2 linked regions of the Homo sapiens genome follow. The protein of the gene in region 2 interacts with the protein of the main gene of each other region in a biochemical or structural test. Each region holds a gene or a part of one and is shown on either strand. Other genes may lie near its edges.

What was found. The genes of interacting proteins can lie anywhere in the genome.
Region 1: the proteins of BRAP (region 2) and KSR1 form a complex in vitro, tested with the Homo sapiens proteins (one study listed by BioGRID).

The regions. Positions count from the first base shown.
Region 1 is NC_000017.11:27,620,374-27,624,124, reverse strand, and holds part of KSR1 (kinase suppressor of Ras 1), read right to left. Parts: intron 2,933-3,751; coding exon 2,852-2,932; intron 2,197-2,851; coding exon of another isoform or gene 2,190-2,196; exon of another isoform or gene 812-2,189; coding exon 733-811; 3' UTR 1-732.
Region 2 is NC_000012.12:111,665,320-111,669,070, reverse strand, and holds part of BRAP (BRCA1-associated protein), read left to right. Parts: exon of another isoform or gene 1-113; intron 114-431; exon of another isoform or gene 432-836; intron 837-1,143; exon of another isoform or gene 1,144-1,351; intron 1,352-1,655; exon of another isoform or gene 1,656-2,140; intron 2,141-3,283; coding exon 3,284-3,432; intron 3,433-3,751. UniProt on the Homo sapiens protein: Negatively regulates MAP kinase activation by limiting the formation of Raf/MEK complexes probably by inactivation of the KSR1 scaffold protein.

The DNA.
Region 1 (3,751 bases), on a different chromosome or scaffold from region 2:
TTTCCTCACCTTGCAGCAGAAACCCTGGCTGGGAACCACCGGGTGAGTCCAGACCTTTTTTGGATTCTGTTTCTACTTTTCCAGCAGGAGCAGCCTGGATTACAGGGGTGAGAAGGTGAACCCAAGCTCTCCAGGAATTCCAGACTCCATAAACTAGCTCAGTTCCTAGCCAGGGTTTCCTCTGCAAGACGAGGAAGGGGCAGTATCCCTTTGAAAGGACAAGGGGAGAGCCCTAGATAGATTTCCCTGATGGAGTCTTGGGCCAAAAAGCAGAGGCCAGATCAGACCTTCTGGGCTCCCCGCCCTACCCCAAGAACAGCTGCAATTACCATGTTTGTCTTCCTTCTGGCCCAGCATGGGTCCCTCACCGCCTACAAGGTCCTCAGAGGGGATGGCCATTTCCGCCATCCTGGCCGTCAGTGCCAGTGCATCTGCACAGACTGTTTTTATTATTACCTATTGTAAAACATCAGGTTCACTCAGGAGAAATATACGTGTAAACATTTGCTGTCTGTCATGACAGGTTTGGTTGTTGGTGGTGTCATTTTAAGAAATAGCAGGTGCAGCTCCATCTCCCGAGTGGGGTTTATGGCCAACAGTCTGAATCTAGGACGTGTGCTCCTGGTTTGCAGCGCTGGGCAGGCAGTGTTTTTTTGTCGTGGTGGTTGTTGGGATGTTTCAGAAACACATTTTAAAAAGAAAGAGATCAGCAGCGAAAAACCATATGGCTGGCTACATCTTTGGATTACTGGACTCCAGGACGCCCAAGCCAAACCTTTCAAACCGGGGTACAACTTTGCTGCTGTTAATGCTGCAAAGAGGAACAAAAACAAGAATTATAGCCCCATTGATCTTCATCAGAATTAGGGTAACACTAGCTAGGAAATGAGTTCAGCAGAGGACCTGGCCTCCAACAAGAAATGAAAATGACTGATTGGCCAACAGCCCTGGCAGAGCTGCCCCTGGTCATACTGCGTCCAAGGCCTCAGCTACACTCCAAGTAGTCCTACTTGGAGCAGCAACGGTGGCTCATTCATCTCCAAGTCCCAAGCTCCCAGCATGCTCAGTACTGCTGTGGGTTCCTAGGAATTGTTTTCTCATTTGCAGCCCAGGAAAGCTCTTGCTCCAAGTAGAACTGAGAGAGAAGAGAAACATGACTCCCAGGATACCAGGAGTGACAGGGCATGTTCCTTTTAGCAATAAACTCTAATACTGGGGTGCATCAGGGCCACCTGGGAAGCAGGTTGAAATGCAAATTCCTAGGGCCCCATTCCAGAGATCTGGGTTCAGCAGGTCTTGCTGGGGAGGGAGAACAGAAACCTGCATTTGGTAAACAGTGCATTGACTGCCACAGGGGACTCAGCAGCCATGCTCTTGACAAATGCTGACCTGGGGTCTGGTCTATGGTACACTGGGCAGCTGTAAAGGAAGTAACTTTGCCAGGGTGGCAGGGTGGGGACGGGGCAGAGACTTTGTTTTCATCAGAAAAATTGTCTGGAGCCAGGTACCTCTTTGCTTTAAGACAATTTTTCTGAGGGTGCCACTGAAGACACAACCCTTCCAAGCTGGTATCTTTCATGGCCACAGAACTTTCTGTGTCTTCTGATCTAACTCTACAGAGGGGACTGAGACAGGAGCCAGCGCAGAGGGTTCCTGTGACCAGGGTGCCAGCCTCAGGGCAGCTCTGAAATCATTCCACTCCTTGTTGGACAAAATCCCCACAGGTTAAAAGCCAAGCCAACACCCTCCCAACCTCCGCCCGCCCCGCACTAGGCACACACCCAGTGGGAGGCTGGTGTGCTCAGGAGGGTGGAAGGCATCTCACTAAGGTGTTAGCAGTGAGACAGAGCCACCCAAACAAAAACAAGACCAGCCCTCAGAAGAACACGGGAGCAATCAGTCATGTCCAGGAAGGTAGTTAGAAGCTGCCCAGACTGCCTTGGAGGGAGCTCAGTTAGTGGGATCCTCTGAGAGCAGTTACTTGGGCATATGCAGGCCACGTGGAGAGGGCAGAGGGCCAGTTTTTAAAACAAAGCAAAAGAAGTAGCCTCGAGAGAGACGACTGGAGCAGCAGAGGTGGCATCCCCTGGGTTAGTGCCCGCATCTCATTTTGCATTTTAGCAGAAGTCACGGTGCTGAGTTGTTGATTAGGAGGAAGAAAGCCCCTGGTGCATGCAAGGCAGCCAGGCCTACAACCTACAGAGGGAAAGAGAAGAAAGCAAAGAACAGCATCAGAATCATAGCCCCAATGCAGAGCCTGTCGGGAGCTAGAGGTCTGGCCAGAGCAGCTGGGCAGGGGACTCCCTTTCTCTTCCAGAGAGAAAGGGCCATCCTGGACTCCATCCCCCAGGCTTGGCTGCACTGCATGCTCAGAAGGGATCCTGGGCACAAAGAACCCTCTCTAAGCTCCCGCAGGGCACAGTTGCAGCACGTTTATAAAGAGGATGGAACATGCCCACAGCTCCTTAGCCCTTGACGAGTAAAATCTACTTCCAAGAGTATTTCTGCTTAACTGGATTCTCTTCTCTTGAGCTCTGGCCAGGGGGACTGGGATCCTGGGGGCTCAAATCAATGACCAGAATTTTCTCCGACCCAGGGACAAGCCACCCATTCACTCATGGTGTGGACAAAGGCCCCGCCACATGCTGTGGCTCTTCTCTCACCCAGCGAAAAATGCAAGCCTGTGTGACCCTTGCTGGAAGCCATTTCAGCTGCAGAAACCTCACTTTGGTTTGCGAGAATAAATGACACAAAGATGGGAGAAGCTGGGAAGCGGCGACAGAAAGGAAGCAGGGCTTGTGTCAGGAAAACCAGAGACAGGCAGCCAGCGAAGGAAGTAACAGGAACACACTATTCCTCCAGAATCGGACAGGAGCTCTTAAAGTCAGGGTGGCCGTAGCGTCCTTTTCCATAGTAGCGGCTCCTCCAGCGACTGGGAGTGCCCAGCGACCATTCCACCAGGCGTGGGAAGAGCGCAGTCCGGCCCCGGCATGTGATGGAGTCAGGCACGTGTGGACAGGTGGAGGAATCAGGTGATGGGAAAGTGGGAGATGACAGAACAGCACATCCGCCACCCCCCGAAAATAAAAAAGTGACAAGATCAATGGAAAGAAAAGAGAAAGTGAGAATTAGGGGGCAAGCGTGTAGAAAGTAAACACTGTGAACAGGAAGCTTTGACACAGACTCATTCAGGAAAGGAAAGCCCGCATGCTTTCCTCGAAGGGGCTGGGCAGGGAACAGCCCCATCTGTGACTCAGTTTCCTGCCTGTGAAATGAGAAGGTGGGACTATATGGTTTTTGGGGAATCTGGAATGATGTTCTGAATGCCAGTGTCCACCTAGTGGAGCCTTTTCTTTCGTCACGGAGAAAACCAGGGCCCAGCTTGTTAAGCAAGTTGCCCACGGTCTGATTAGAGCTTGGCCTCGCTGCCTCACATCACCCTCCTTGAACTGCTAAGAGCCCCATGCTCCTGGTCTCTGCTGGGATAGTTCTGGCTCAAAACCCAGCCCTGACGACCTTCTTCCAGAGACTCTTCCTCCTGTCCCCCAGGTGGATGCAGAGGCCCCCATCTGGGCTTTATCACAGCACTTGGCATGGTATCACCCTTTGCTCACATTCATTCATGCACATTAAATATTTAGTGCCCAACTATAATGTTCCTGGGACTGTACTAGGAGCCAGGAATACAAAGGTGACAAGAAAGAGTCCTGATGTGTGCAGGTTTCATTACAGTGTGTCTGTTTGTCTTTAG
Region 2 (3,751 bases):
AAAATTAAAATGCAGCTTTTTTCCTTATAGGCATTTGTTTTGTTTCAAGTCATCATAAAGTAGGTATTGCATTGCTATCAGTGGATACAGATGCTTAGCTCTTAAAAGAATTTTTTTTGGCCAGACGCAGTGGCTCACGCCTGTAATCCCAGCACTTTGGGAGGTTGAGGGTGGATCACGAGGTCAGGAGATCGAGACCATCTTGGTTAACATGGTGAAAACCCATCTCTACTAAAAATACAAAAAATTAGCTAGGCGTTGTGGTGGGCACCTGTAGTCCCAGCTACTCGGGAGGCTGAGGCAGGAGAATGGCGTGAACCCGGGAGGCGGAGCTTGCAGTGAGCCGAGATTGTGCCACTGCACTCCAGCCTGGGCGACAGAGCGAGACTCTGTCTCAAAAAAAACAAATTAAAAAAAAAAAAAAAGAATTCTTTTTAATGTAAACTGTTGAATATTTGAAATAGCCCACTTCACCTTAATGGGTCTTGTGTATCTTCATTTGTCTTCAAAGAAAAACCATTTGCTACCAAAGTAAATCAGTATTTCGAATGTGCTTCTCTTGTTTTTTGTTTATTAGCTAGTTGCTGTAAGCATTTCCACCAGAACTTGAGCCAAATCATAAGGAAGCTGTTTCTTTTAAAATACAAACCACCACCAAAAAATTAAATGTACATATTAAGCATTTGACTATTTTTATTTTTTTAAAAAGTATAAACACCAAAAAAAAAAAAATTAACATTGTATGAAGATGGAAAACAAGAAGATACACTTTCTGTAACTTTGTCTGAGGATTTAAATTACTAACTTGTGAATCCAATTTAAATTGAACTTAACTACTGGCTTCCCCCACACCCCGCCCCGACCCAGACGGAGTCTTGCTCTGTCGCCCAGGCTGGAGTGCATTGGAGCAGTCTCGGCTCACTGCAGCCTATGCCTCCCAGGTTCAAGTGATTCTCCTGCCTCAGCCTCCTGAGTAGCTGGGATTACAGGTATGCACCACCATGCCCAGCTAATTTTTGTGTTCTTAGTAGAGATGGGGTTTCACCACGTTGGCCAGGCTGGTCTCAAACTCTTGACCTCGTGATCCGCCTGCCTTGGCCTCCCAAAGTGCTGGGATTACGGGTGTGAGCCACCGTGCCAGCCCCAGCTTTCTTACTAGTAAAATTACATGGTTGATTTTAAATGTATACATGTTGACCAATGGCCTCTCAAAAAGCACATTTTAGATACTGGAGTAGAAGGAAAGAAAATGCATCTTCAAACATTTTTTTGGAATCTCACCACATATACTTTGTGAGATTTGTATATTGTAGGGTGTTAGTTTTTGTATTTTTGTATTGTGTATGAGCTTTTTTTTTTTTTTTTTTTTTTTGAGACGGAGTTTCACTCTGTCTCCCAGGCTGGAGTGCAGTGGTGTGATCTCAGCTCACTGCATCCTCTACCTCCTGGGTTCAAGAAATTCTCTGCCTCATCCTCCCAAGTAACTGGGATTACAGGCACCCACGACCACACCCGGCTAATTTTTTGTGTTTTTAGTGGAGACAGGGTTTCACCCTCTTGGCCAGGCTGATCTTGAACTCCTGACCTTGTGATCCACCCGCCTCGGCCTCCCAAAGTGCTGGACTTAACAGGCGTGAGCCACCCCGCCCGGCATCTTTTTTAATGTGACAGTTAAACACATCTTTAAAAGCATAGTCACAGACAAAAGAAGCATACAGTATAAACATTTCCTTGAAAACTCCTACAATATTATATTTGGAGGCAGCTTCAGACTGTTTTATTGGTGGTAACTGCTCGCTGAGCTCTTTTAGTTGGTAATAACTCCAGAGAAGCATCCTGTGTATATTCCTAACACTTGTTCACTAGCATTTAAGTTTAGAATGAGCCCCAAGTAAAACAATGGAAATGTATATAGAACTCTTAGTTCTTACATGATTTAATTATATCAAAATACATGAATTTAACTTACTTTAATGTAGGCAAACTATCAATTTTTGTCCATTTTCCTGTTTGTTAACATACCTCTCCTAGATATTCTTTTCTTGACCCAAATGAAATATTAACCTAAGGTCAAGCTGGGAGAGAGAAACAACTGAGATGAATGTCTTTACTAAAATACCGATAAATTTGTCAAACTCAAAAAAAAATTGACGTGATAAAATTGGGCATCCTTTGTGCTGGCTGCTGCACGAGGCCTCAGTTTTAGAGATTCCTTTCTTAAATGAACGTGGCTTCTTGAGAGATTTCCTGTAAGTATCTACTCTTCAGGGACTGTAGGTTAATGTGCTTTTTCTCTGTCCATAAGTGTGTGCTCCCTGACCTTTGCCTAAGTAATTCTTTCTCGTCTTCTGGCTGGAAGCGTCAAGTCAAGCACTGTCTTAGGAATGCCTTTCCTGACCATCTAGACTGTCATGCCCCCTAATTCACACCCTGTTGTGGCTTCCTGTACTGTTTGCTTTTTAATTTGATTTTTGTCTCTCCCTCCACTAGATTCTAAACTCTGTGGGGGCAGGAGCTGACTGTTTTTTGGACTTAACGTATCTGTTTTTGCTCACCACTGTTCCACACCTAGAACAGTGTCTGTCTGCTGCACATAGCAGGGGCTCAATCTCTATCTGTACAATGAGGGAATAAAGAAAAATCAGTGTTGTTGGTGCTGTCATCACTGAGTAGAAAGTGTTAAGTTATAACTTACTCTATGGAAAAATCCTTCAGGTCCAGCTATTCTTTTGTTCCTTTGTGTTCTATTATAGTCGTAGACACTTAGAGCTTGAGCTAGGAGTCTGGTCACATTTGAGATTTATATGTTAAGGTTTTGACAGCAGTCTCCCTTCCTGGAATGTCAGTTCTGTAAGGGCAGAGATCTTTGTTTTGTTCACCGCTGTACTCCCAGTACCTGGCACAGTGCTGGAACACAGGAGGTACTCCATCCCTGTTTCTTGAATGAATGAATAAATGAATGAAAATATTACCAATTTAAATTACTTGCTTAGAGTAATGATATTGAGGATATCCTGCCAGGAGTCAAAAAAGCAACTAGAAAACTATTATTAAAAGAAGAAAGGCCTGGCACAGTGGCTCATGCCTGTAGTCCCAGCTACTGGGGAGCCTGAGGTGGGCAGATCTCTTGAGCCTGGGAGGTCAAGGCTGTAATGAGCCATGATTGCGCCACTGGGCTCCAGCGTGGGTGACAGAGAGCGAGACCCTGTCTCAGAAAAAAGAAGGAAAAATAAAGTATTGCTGGTAGATGAAGAGTGAGGCTTATGTGAGGTGTTTCCTGTAGGGCGCCAGCCTCCCAGTGATGGACCTGACTGAACTCCCCAAGTGCACGGTGTGTCTGGAGCGCATGGACGAGTCTGTGAATGGCATCCTCACAACGTTATGTAACCACAGCTTCCACAGCCAGTGTCTACAGCGCTGGGACGATACCACGTGAGTGCAGGGGCCGAACCCCTCTGTGTACAAGCCCATTGCAACCCTTCCAGAATTAAAAAGAGCCACCAGCAGAAATGAACCATTCCAAGTATTTGACTTTATTCAAGAGGTCCTTTTTCTCCTTCCCTTTCCTAAGTTCAGGGAATCGGCATTCTGAGACCAAGTCCTTTTTTAGTATGCTGATTCTGAACCCTTGTGGAATTCCCCAAAGCAGCATGAGTTGTTCTTTCCTTCCAAGAGCCAGAGAGTGAAAAAAAAAAGCAAAGCTTAGTTTGAGGCTCTCGTGCTGCAGTGAAATCTAGGTCTGGAATCTCAT